2 linked regions of the Homo sapiens genome follow. The protein of the gene in region 1 interacts with the protein of each later gene in a pairwise test. Each region holds a gene or a part of one and is shown on either strand. Other genes may lie near its edges. The genes, in order: INPP5F and TRPV2.

Evidence for each region.
Region 2: the proteins of INPP5F (region 1) and TRPV2 interact in a protein complementation assay, tested with the Homo sapiens proteins (one study listed by IntAct).

What each region holds. Positions count from the first base shown.
Region 1 is NC_000010.11:119,721,886-119,729,217, reverse strand, and holds the start of INPP5F (phosphatidylinositide phosphatase SAC2), read right to left. Parts: upstream 3,169-7,332; 5' UTR 2,956-3,168; coding exon 2,859-2,955; intron 2,723-2,858; exon of another isoform or gene 2,362-2,722; intron 1-2,361. UniProt on the Homo sapiens protein: Inositol 4-phosphatase which mainly acts on phosphatidylinositol 4-phosphate.
Region 2 is NC_000017.11:16,432,370-16,437,563, reverse strand, and holds the end of TRPV2 (transient receptor potential cation channel subfamily V member 2), read right to left. Parts: intron 3,991-5,194; coding exon 3,866-3,990; intron 2,675-3,865; coding exon 2,595-2,674; coding exon of another isoform or gene 2,587-2,594; exon of another isoform or gene 2,583-2,586; intron 776-2,582; coding exon 675-775; 3' UTR 561-674; downstream 1-560. UniProt on the Homo sapiens protein: Calcium-permeable, non-selective cation channel with an outward rectification. Seems to be regulated, at least in part, by IGF1, PDGF and neuropeptide head activator. May transduce physical stimuli in mast cells.

The sequences.
Region 1 (7,332 bases):
GCCGAGAACACGCCACCGCACTCCAGCCTGGGCAACAGAGCAAGACTCTGTCCACTGCCCGCCCCGCCCTTTCCCCCTCCCCCAAAAAAACAGGCCTAAAAAGAGCAACAAACATAATACAACATCTTATTTTTAAGGCAATGATATTACTGAGAGAGAACTTAGACTTAACTTTAATTCAGCTCAACTCAAACAAAAACGCCTTCTCTGTCCTAAGTACTCTAAAGCCTAGAGACACCAAGATGAGGAGTAAATACAGCCCTTGCCTTGGGGAACACACTGGGACTTCCCACCGGGGAAGAAGTAGGCAAACTTTTATTATGATGATGCATAAGGGTTAGAATTGAAGTGTCCACTAAGTGTAGAAAATGCCTGGAAACACAATAAAGGTGGCCAATAATTCTGCCCCAAGGATGAGGGGTAGCATCTGAGCTGGGTCTTATGGAATGGACTAGGTAGGAAAAGGGGTTGACAGTAACAAACATTCCAGGCTAAATAAATGAGTATTTTAATCTTAAATATCATCATTACTTATCCTTCTGATGTCTCTAGAAAAAGGAAAACTCTTGTTTCAGGTTGTTCAATAGTCACGAATGTAAAAACCACGATGCCCACAAGCTTTTTTGAGCTTATAATACTGCCCTTTCAAAAAAGAAAAGGACTTAGTAATCTATTCAGCTAAATAACCAGTAGGAAACAATGAAAGATTTTAAATGCTGTCACTACAAACAGCAGCAAAACTTGCCATAAAAGCACAGGGGAAAAGTCCAATAAAATAAAGAGAATTTTAAATGATTCCATATACAGAAAAAGATCTGAAAAGCACTTATTCAATTAAAATGCCATTCTTAAATAGCCATTAGTTAGAAAGGATCTTCAGTCCTGGACAGGATAAACTATAGGAAAATCAAGTGCATGGGATTCTTTATTCCCTGGCTATCCTGAACACCTTAAGATCAAAACTGGCTGTTACTTCTGAAACATGGCCTCTTCCTTCCTCCAGACATTTGGTCTACTTGGTCTGTGGCCCGCTATATTCTAAAAAGTATGCCAATCTCAAGTGCAAAGGCTATAGCTACTTTCCTCCCCCAAAAAAGTTTTAAATTTGCCTTCTGACATGGACTTTGAACAAACAGTAATCCAAACTGCATGGCTTCATCCAAGAATCTAGGCGCAGGTTAGCCTTTATAGTTCAAGAAACTGGGGTGTAGAAAAGTTTGTTGTCAGATGAGTTGGAGACGATCTTAAGTCCCATCCAGTTCTAATAGTCTAAGCTTTTAGAATCCAAGGAGTTGACTCTTTTGACAACCTAGGAATTTTGAAATCTGCTTTACTTCAAGCTGTACTGAAGCCTTACCCAAATTTGGGGGAGTGAAAGGAGGGAAGGGGAGAAAGCCAGACAAATGGTCAAATCAGAGAAGAGAATGACAGAAGACTGGCCAAAATTAGCCTATCCATAATAACTCTATCCCGAGATCATCAAGAACTTTATCTGGGCCAAGGAGTTTATCCTCCATTCTGAAAAGAGGAAATACAACGTAATAGCAAGAAAATATAGACAGAGCCTGAGGAAAAAAATAAGTTATCCTTCACTGCTCTGGCAAAGCAACTAGTAGGCCTTCCTAAGAAAGCAGTGGGGCCTGCCCAAAAGTGTTCTGGAGGTCACAGAACTGCCCTGTGTCAGTGTCTCAACTCTAGGCTGTGACCCCGAACGAGTTACTAATAACCTCTCACTCCTTTCTCCTCACCTGAAAAAGAGGATCCCACACGTGTCCTGTAAGGTTGCTGTGGGGATTGGAAATAATATGTTAAAGGGCCTGTCCTTAAAAACCATCCTATAAGTGATACCACGCTGTGATCTGAAAAGCTCATCTGAACCTTTTATCCTTTTCAATTCATATCATGTAATCCTTCTGTCTAGACTGCACATAAGAATTACAAGTAAGTCTGAAAAGCTCTGGCTCCTTCCTTAAAGAACTCTATCCTCTCGCTTTCCCTAAAGTGGAAGAATCTCTGAGTGATATGAGGAAAGGATTAGCAAGCCAAAAGGGGCAGGTGCCACCCAGCCCCATCTTACAAGAAACTGGACTGTCAGCGCTCTGAGGGCAGGGACTGCTCTGTTTAAACCACGACTGCACACACATTTTCCTAAAGCAAGCTAATTGCAGACTTAAGCCTCTCCGAACAGCTTACATGACACCCAAACATGGACCCACAATACATTTTGTGTCGCACAACATCAAGTCACACAAAAATCTCAAAATTATACATTACAATACAATTTAATTGTGCTGTGGTATTAAAGTCAAAGACAAAGGCTTTAAACCGAGTGCCTATGAGGTAACCACAGTAAAGTCACACCTTTAATAATAAGGGACCAAGAACACACGGGATGGCAACAGGGAGTGAGTGTCCAGCAGAGCCCTAGACGGAACTGGCGCAACCGCTCCAGATCGGAATTCGAACCCAGAACTTCTGGCGAAGGCCATGTAAGAACTACTCCAAGGAGGAAGAGGCCTTTACGGCCAGGTGCACCTTGCTGGAACTTTCTGCCGGAGGGGACCCCCTCCCCTCGGCCTGGGCCCCAAGCCCCAAGGGCGGCCGCGTGACGCGGTGGGAAGGACGAGGGTCGCCAGCCCCTTCTGCTCCGCACTGGGGTAGGGGCTCGGCGCTGTCTCGGAGAAAGGCCAGGCTCCTTCCAGTCAGGGAATAATGACAGCTCGCGCGCTCGCAGCCCGCCCCGCCCCGCCTCACCAGGCCCGCAGGCGGCTCCTCCCGCCCGGCTGAGGGGTCCGGCCGCGCCCCCTCCTCTCCCCGCCCTGGCCCGGGGTGCCCCCCGCCCGCACCGCCAGCCTCACCGGGTCGGAGCTGGAGGCCGCCGTCGCGGCGGCTGCACCACAGCGCGCGCTCGCCCTGCTGCAGGATGTAGTGGTCCTTGGCTTGGAAGAGCTCCATGCTGGCCCCGCGCGCCCAGGGAGGCGGCGGCCCGCGGGCGGCGCACGGGGCGTCCTAGTCGGTCGAGGCCGCCAGAGCCCGCGCCTCGGGGAGCGGCCGGGTAGGAACCGCGCCGAGAAGCAGCGGCAGAGGGAACGCCCCGGGGCACCCGACCGGTAGGAGGAGAACGCGCCCCGGCAGCGGCGGCGGCAGCGGCGGCCGTAGAGGCCTCTCCCCCCCGCTCCTCCCCTTCCCTGGCTCCGCCCCAGGCCCGGCTCCACCCCCTCTGCTGGCTACTCTCCCCGAGCGCCCGGCTCCGCCCCTCAGCCTCCTCCTCCTTTCAGCTCCCTCCCGCTTCCTGCCCTTTCCTCCGCCTTCTCCCGGGTGTCTCCTCCCAGCTCCTCCCCGCGGGTCTTTCCTCCTCCCTCTCGTCCTTCCGCCCGCCCCTCCCGCTCTTGCCCAGGCCCCTCCCCCGGCGCGCCAGCCTTCCTGTCGTGGTCACCGGTGGCAGCTCGGGAGCTCGGCCGAGTCGGTCTGGACTGACCGCCTCCCTCCGCGCGGCCTTGGGGACAGGCGCCCACCGCTGGGGCCTCCCCTCCGTGCAGGGAGGCGCTCACGCTTCGCCAGGCCGAGACCTGAATCCAACCCCACACCCGCTCTCCCGGAGCGGTGCGGGGTACGTTCCCCGCGGGCCTGCGCTGCCTGCCCGTACCGAAACCAGGCGAGACCCCGGGGCCTGGCTACAGGGGTTCATCCCCAGCCAGGCCCACAGCCAAGCGGAGGCGTCTTCTGTTTTCGTATTCCCTATTAGAAGTTTGACAACAGGAGGCATTCAATAAATGCACATCAACGAGGGAAAGCATGTAACAATAGAAAACACACAAGCATTAGCAGCACGCGGCTAAAGAGCGAGGAGGAAGGGAGGAATGTACAGGTGCTGCTGTGTCCCGAATTAAGCAGGGCGGTTTGGAGAAGACTTCACAAATGGAGCCAGTTAATGAAGCAAGCGGAAGGAATATCGTTTGGCGAGGATAAGATGAATGGAGACCCTCTCGGGGAAGGAGGAGTCTCCCCCAAACATCCTTGAGCTCAGTCTGTCTTGAAAAACCAGTTGATATCCTGAACAGAATGGGTCTGGAGAATGAGGCCCCCACTTCCGGGGCCAGTTCGAGGACTATCTAGCTGTGTGATCTTGGGGAAGTCTCTTGGTCTCAGATGGTGGTTGAACTAATGACCTTTTATGACACCCCCAGTTCTATAAATCATTGAGTCTTCCTACTCCTAACTCCTTGCCTTCTCTAATGCCTGAATCGGAAACAAGAGAAAAAGACAAGAAGTAGGAGATGAGAAAAATAAGGCAATACTTTTTTTTTTTTTTTTTTTAGTTTAGGAGCGGAAGTTTATAGGCAAAAGAAAAGGGAGAACAGCTGTCTCTCTTGCGAGAGAGAGGAGTGACCGAATGGGACTTCTCAGAAAGCAATACTTTTAACCTTCTGCTCAAGTAAAAGTGAGAGGGTACAAAAGCAGGAAGGAGTTCCACATGACTAGTTATTCCAGCCCACAGTGTTGAATTTCCATAGCACAGAAAGTCCAATGATAACAAAGCGTCCTGGAATCTTTTCTAAGTACCATGCCTCTGTGCTGTCCAGACACCTCAACATAAAGGTCGAGGGAGGTGGTTACTCTATCAAATCTTTGTGATGTGATTTGGAGAAAGAAGGTAATGAAGCTATAAGAAGCTTCAGTGGAACCATCGGTTTCAGATTGATTGTTTAATTCAGCCATGTGTTGACTTAGCAAAAATGAGAATGAGAAAATCCTATGAAGACATTGTATCCTGCAAATTATTTCATTATTGTTTTATGAATTACATTGCCAGATGTGAAGAAAACAATGCTGTTGTAACTGTTTTAAAACAATTAATTAGTTCATTGAAACTTTTCCTGATGTTTTAGATCCATGGTTCCAACCCTGGCTGCCTATTAGAATCACCTGGGGAATTTTTCAAACATATCAATGCTTGGACCTTAGACCAATTAAATCAGAATTTAATTGGGGTGGGGCTCTGGCATCAGTTTGTTTATTTTTTCTAAGCTCCCCAGATGACTTTACTATGCAGTCAGGCTTGAACACCACTATTTTAAGTGAAATTAATTAGTAAAATCTGCCTGACAGCAGCTTGGAAAAAAACAGCAGTCAGTCATTAACTAATGCCATCATATGGGCTTGGTTACCTGTAAATGCAGAGTTAACAAGCAAAGTCTTTAGGAGAGAGGAAAACATGGAGGGGAGATGCTTCTGTAATTATCTGACCCCAATGCACACTGCTGTCTCCCTCAGGCTCCAAACACATGCTGTGGGGTAGGCACAGCTCTAGCCTGGCTGAGCAGAGTGAAAAGAGCACATATTTTCTGTCCCTGGTAGATGTCACATCCCCAATCTACTGCCACAGTTGCCTTGCCTTGTTTCTGCTATGAACTTCCTGAACCTTGGCCACTGCAGCCTCTCCACTCCCTGGCTAGCCTATCCTCGGCCTGTGGCTAACTTGCCAGCCTCATCACCCTCTTCCAGCTTCCTAATTCAAGGTCCTCCTGCCCCGATGCCACCCAGGTTTTAATGGAAAGTTCACGTGATGCTGCTCTCCTTTTTAAACACAGATGACCATCATACATATTATATATCTTCTTTTACGTGTATGGCATATATATGCTAATTTAAGTATAATCACTAAGGAGTTTGGTTCTAGCCAGTTCTGTGTGATTTTGGTCAGTTCACTCAATCTCTTTTGATCTCAGGGTCCTTATTTATGAAAAGAGATGATCACTAAGTGTTCCCTTCCAGTGCTGAAATCAATGTGAGGAAATGTGTCCACGTAGTTAAACCTACACAAATGATGGTAAATAAGCCAACTGTGATTATCGATTTAGCCCTTCAATATCTCTGAGATCTTTGGATTAGATTTTGGTATCCTCTGGTGAGATTTGACTTTAACATCATCTCCTGTCTTCTGTCTACTTGTCCATAGTCTTGTTTGTTGTCTGTGATAACTTTCTTCAGTCTTGTCTATGAGAAATCTCCCAAAAGAAGAGATTTATATTTATATAAATATATTCCCCCCTCCCCCAGCCTGCCTGGAGGCTGCTAATGTTGCAGGTCAGCAGTCCAGGTGGCTTAACTTTGTTTTTTGTTTTTTGTTTTTTAATTTTTTTTTTATTGATAATTCTTGGGTGTTTCTCACAGAGGGGGATTTGGCAGGGTCATGGGACAATAGTGGAGGGAAGGTCAGCAGATAAACAAGTGAACAAAGGTCTCTGGTTTTCCTAGGCAGAGGACCCTGCGGCCTTCCGCAGTGTTTGTGTCCCTGATTACTTGAGATTAGGGAGTGGTGATGACTCTTAACGAGCATGCTGCCTTCAAGCATCTGTTTAACAAAGCACATCTTGCACCGCCCTTAATCCATTTAACCCTGAGTGGACACAGCACATGTTTCAGAGAGCACAGGGTTGGGGGTAAGGTCACAGATCAACAGGATCCCAAGGCAGAAGAATTTTTCTTAGTGCAGAACAAAATGAAAAGTCTCCCATGTCTACTTCTTTCTACACAGACACGGCAACCATCCGATTTCTCAATCTTTTCCCCACCTTTCCCGCCTTCTATTCCACAAAGCCGCCATTGTCATCCTGGCCCGTTCTCAATGAGCTGTTGGGCACACCTCCCAGACGGGGTGGTGGCCGGGCAGAGGGGCTCCTCACTTCCCAGTAGGGGCGGCCGGGCAGAGGCGCTCCTCACCTCCCAGACGGGGCGGCTGGCCGGGCAGGGGGCTGACCCCCCCACCTCCCTCCCGGACGGGGCGGCTGGCCGGGCAGGGGCCTGATCCCCCCACCTCCCTCCCCGACGGGGCGGCTGGCCGGGCGGGGGGCTGACCCCCCCACCTCCCTCCCGGACGGGGCGGCTGGCCGGGCGGGGGGCTGACCCCCCACCTCCCTCCCGGAAGGGGCGGCTGGCCGGGCGGGGGGCTGACCCCCCCCACCTCCCTCCCGGACGGGGTGGCTGCCGGGCGGAGACGCTCCTCACTTCCCAGATGGGGTGGCTGCCGGGCGGAGAGGCTCCTCACTTCTCAGACGGGGCAGCTGCCCGGTGGAGGGGCTCCTCACTTCTCAGATGGGGTGGTTGCCAGGCAGAGGGTCTCCTCACTTCTCAGACGGGGCGGCCGGGCAGAGACGCTCCTCACCTCCCAGACAGGGTCGCGGCTGGGCAGAGGCGCTCCTCACATCCCAGATGGGGCGGCGGGGCAGAGGCGCTCCCCACATCTCAGACGATGGGCGGCCGGGCAGAGACGCTCCTCACTTCCCAGATGTGATGGCGGCTGGGAAGAGGCGCTCCTCACTTCCTAGATGG
Region 2 (5,194 bases), on another chromosome or scaffold:
CTGGAACTGCTTGGGCAAAACCGTGGGGGTCTCGGGATGTCAGCTAGGGCATTCTGTGGGTACTGGGGAGCCTCTCAGGCCTTCAGAGCACAAAGAGGACATGTTTGTCTTATGTCTTAGGAAGGCCCTCTGGCTGCCCTGCAGAGAATGGCTTGGGAGGGGTGGGAATTGAGCAAGAAGCTCGGTAGGAAGAGAAAGCAAGAGAGGTGGCTTTAATGGGTTTTCCCAGGTACCTGCCCAAAAGCAGGGTGGGTGTGGAAAGCAAAGGGTGTCGTGGTGGAGAGAGAGGAGAGGTGGCTGTTTGCCCATGTCCATCACCATATATCTGCCACAACAATGGGCACAGCACCTCAGCCAGCTGCCTGTACCCAGGAAGAGGACAGTCCCCAGACTTGGGGATGTGGGGGTGAGGGTGGGGACACAGCAACTGAGGGTCTCTGTGCCCAGGCAAGGGCAGGAGCAACCTAGTCCCATACACAGACCTGTGCACACAGAGACATGCAGACATTGCCAGCTCTAAGGGTCCCAGCAACTCTGCCCAAATAATGTTTCCAGAAGAGTTAGTTAGTGAAAATATATATTTGCCACCAGAATTCACTGGGACCCCAGAGCCAGCAGATGTGGTTGGAAAGATCCTCTGCTCTGTCCTCTGGCCTCCTGCTGCATCTGGGCCATCAGTTGGACTGGAGGAGCTGGACGGGCACATAGTTTTCCTCAGAGGCACCATCCTCATCCTCCTTGGGAGGGGAAGCCAGGACAGGGTTCTCGAGAGTTCCTGTAAACAGATGGCAAGCACTGTAGCTTAACCCTTGAGTGTGTCCCCAGGAAGCAGGCACCAGGGAAACGGGGCCACAGTCATGAAAACACGTCATGCCGTGGGGACAGCCTCAGCGATCCTGGAGGCCAGCAATCCTTCTCCCTGCTTCCCTCACTCCACAAGCATTTCCCAATCCCCTGCCATATCAGGGGCTTCCCCCTGCCCCTGCCACCCCCAGGAGCTTAAAGTGCCTGGAGGTGACAGACTTGTGTGTCAGAGATCAGAACACCTGAGACATGCTGGGGGAGCTCAGAGGAGAGAGGGGACCTGTCCTGCAGGGGCGGTGGCAGATTTGGACATCCAGAGGGGAGGAAGAGCACTTCCGACAGAGACGAATCCAGAGATGAACCAAGGAAAGCAAAGAACAAGGAGTACTGCAGACATGTGGATGGAGGTGTGGGGAGTGAGTTAGACAGCTTTGGGCCCTGACCTCCATTCTGAGCAGTGCGGCCTTCCAGGTAGTGGGAGGCATTGTGTAGCGTGGGCTGCATGTGGTTTTTGTCCACATTAGCAGGACTGCAATGGGTAAGAGTGCAGGCTGGGCCCCCCTGCAGTGGTGCAGAAGTAAGAGGCAGGGCAGGGCAGAGGGATGAGTGGCCGCCTGAGGGGTCAAGGACACTCAGCTCCAGGTGGGAGAGCTGGTATAGCGGGGGGAATAGGCTGAGACTCTCAAGGCCTTCCACCTGGGTGAGGAGGGGGTGGGGTGACATACATGTGACCTGCTGGGGCAGCCCCGAGGCTGTTCCTGTTGGGAATGTCACATTGGAGGCCCCAGCAGGCAGTGGGGTGTGGAGTGCTTGGGGCAAGATGAGGGAGGGACAAGGTGACTTTCAGAGGTGACTTTCCTGGCATTGTAGTGAAGAGAGGGAGATGCAAAGAGAAGGTGAAGGGAAACCTATCTGTATGTGAGGCAGTGGTCACGGCCCAGGAGCCTGGGAAACCAGCAGGCTGTGGGGCAGAAGAGGCCAGAGGAGCCTCCCTACAACAGGGGCCATGGGAGACTCAGGAGGCTATTGTGGGGGGCAACAGGCACAAGCAAGTGAAATTTGTCAGGAAAGAGATGGAGAAAGGAGAGGAGGTGAACCAGTGGAAGGTGGGAGCTATTGAAGGTTCTAGAAAGAAAGGGTATGCAGTGGGGACAGCTAATCCTCAGAACAGGCCTCTGAGGGTGGGAGGAAGGAACCAGTCTTGGTGGAGGCAGCAGGGTGGGGACAGGAGGGGCCATCACTACACTGGAACGGAGAGGACACAGGCCACGGACATGGAGGAAGCATGGGAAGTGGTTTCTCAGAGGTGGGGGACTTGGGGTGTGAAGGGACTAAGGGCCTATGCAGGGCAGTTCCTCTGAGGGTCCAGGGAGATGCTGCCTCTGTTGTAGGCTGCGCTGTGACACAGCCCTTCCTAACTTATTCCCCTGCTGAGTCCCCAGGCTCAGCCCAGGCCTGGCTGGGGACAGACCCTCGATAACCAATTGAATGGGCAAAGGGTGTGACTGACTGGCATCAGAGAGAGGGCAGCCAGAGGCTGGGCTGGTGGAAGCGCTAACAGCCTCAGAGGTTTCCCCTGGTTCCTGCCTGAAAGCAAGGTGTGGGTGGAAAGGAAAGGAGGGAACCACTGTTTTAAGGAGGCAATCCCTCTAAGAGGAGCTGGCATGTGGGGATCTGCAAAGGGACTATGAGGAGGTCTCTGGGTCCTGCCCCAGACTCTCCAAGGCTTTGTGGCCAAGCAGCAGAGACACACACCCCAGGGCAGAGGCTCTAGTCACCAGGCTACTCACGAGGGACACCTGCCCCTGACGGGTCCTCACACAGCGTAGGCAGCGTCTGCTCCCATGAAGCCCAGTTCACCTCCTCCACCCTGAGGGCAACAGAGCAGCTCTGAGGTTTGCCTGCTTTGACCGCCTCCCCTCCCACCCCGGAGAGGGGCGTGGCCCCCCAAATTGGGAGACTATGCAGAGATGCTCTGGTGGACACAGAGGCCCTGAGGAGGACAGGCTTTTTCTCTGCAGGGTTCTGGGCCACCCACTTGGAGCCCTGTCCTGTGAGGCAGGTGCTCACTTGCAGGAATCAGCATCCATCGCTTCTGGCTGTTCACAGCAGCCTGGGTTGCCCAGAACAACCAGAGAAGAGGAATTCAGATCAGGTGTATCTGTGCTTCCGGGTTCTGGGGCCTATCATGGCTGCTCCTCATGCCCAAGACTCCGTCTCTCTGCTCATCTGCTGCCTCACGACAGTGTCTGTTTTTTTTGTTGCTGTTGTTTTCTTTTTTTTTTTTTTTTTGAGATGGAGTCTCGCTCTGTCGCCCAGGCTGGAGTGCAGTGGTGCGATCTCAGCTCACTGCAAGCTCCGCCTCCCAGGTTCATGCCATTCTCCTGCGTCGGCCTCCTGAGTAGCTGGGACTACAGGCGCCCGCCACCACGCCCGGCTACTTTTTTGTATTTTTAGTAGAGATGGGGTTTCACTGTGTTAGCCAGGATGGTCTCGATCTCCTGACCTCGTGATTTGCCCGCCTCGGCCTCCCAAAGTGCTGGGATTACAGGCATGAGCCACTGCACCCGGCCGACAGTGTCTGTTTTTAGCTGTGTGTTTGTCACTAGGTTCCCTCTCCCAGTGTCCCAGCCTTTCCTGGACACAGAAGGGCATGTTCTCCATGGAAGGGGTTGTAGCTCAGAGATCAGGCTGGCAGAATTGGGGGTGGGGGGACACAGAGCAGCCAGGGCAATGCTAGAGTGCTAGCAACCCAAGGGTCCCTCTGACTTCTTGGCCTCCTTACCGTAACACATTTCAGGCTACAAGGAGGAGTCTGAGATCACCAGGAGGGGACCTTCAGTTTAAGCCACTGGGACAGGCAGATGGCCAGTCATGTGGCAGCCATGGCTTGTGAGATCCAGACCCCTGACCTCACCTGCTCAGGCTCAGTCCCTGGTGCTCTTTGGGCCTGCCCTTCCCACCAGACCTGGCTCCTGGCAGCTGTGCCCTGCACTGCAGGGGGGCCCCAGGGATTGCTGGACAGCAAGGCCCCCAGGAGACCCTCCCACCACTCACTCACCTGAAGCACCAGCGCTCATCGGGGCTGCCATCTGGCTTAGTGCCAACGGTCAGCATCACACCTGCCCGCTGCTTCTTCCTGCACCACCAATAGCCATTCTCCATCTCCAGGACAGAGATGGCTTTCTGGGGACAAAGGATGCATCAGACAGAACGTCCTGGGACCCTGCCTGGGGGCAAAGGCACACAAGGCAAGCGGAGCAGGGAAGTGCCGCGCAGCACTTCACAGTATAACGCGAAGTCAACTAAACACGCGGATTCGAATCTGGCTCCAACATCCGGTTACCTGTGTGGGGTTGGGCCCTCAGCCTCTCTGCATCTCAGTTTCCCCATTTGTAGACTGAGGACAAAGTGCCTCAGACAGCTGATGGGAAGTCTGTACCTTATGAGTACTGGACAGCTACTTGCTCTTACATCGTTCCAGGCTCCAGATTGCCACACCACCAGGAACAGAACTTCATTTGCTCACCCCACACATGTGCCTGCCCAGAGGCACACCAGTGAGTCAGGTGGGGCACAGAACCTTGCAGAGGAGGGCACCAAGGCTCAGAGGAGATAAGGGGCTTCCCCAAGATCAACAATGAATTGGCAGCAGGGTGGGGCATGGTGGCTCATGCCTGTAATGCCAGCACTTTGGGAGGCCGAGGCAGGTGTATCACCTGAGGTCAGGAGTTCAAGACCAGCTTGACCAACATGGTGAAACCTTATCTCTACTAAATACAAAAAATTAGTGGGGTGTGGTGGCACATGCCTGTAATCCTAGGTACTTGGGAGGCTGAGGCAGGAGAATCGCTTGAACCCAGGAGACAAAGGTGGCAGTGAGCCAAGATTGCACCATTGCACTCCAGCCCGGGCAACAAGAGCAAAACTCTTGACTCAAAAAAAAAAAAAAAAGAAACACTGGACAGCAATGATGATAAGAGTAGCTGGTAGCACATTGAGCACCTGCTTGGTGCTGGGCACTGTCCTAAGTACATCTATGAGCTTAAAGGAGGTGGGAGTAATCTCAGCACTTTGGGAGGCAAAGGTGGGAGGATCACCTGAGGCCGGGGCAACATAGTGAGACCTTCTTCTCTACAAAAAATAAAAATATTAGCCAAGTGTGGTGGCAGGTGCCTGTAACCCCAGCTACTCAGGAGGCTGAGGAAGGAGGATCACTTGAGCTCAGGAGGCCGAGGCTGCATTGAGCTGTGATCGTGCCACTGCACTCCAGCCTGGGTGACAGAGCAAGACCTTGTCTCCAGAAAAAAAAAAAAAAAAGGAAGAGGAAGACTGACAAGGTAGAGCTGCCCAACCCGGCATCTCCTGGCTAGGGAAGGCCCAGCTCCGC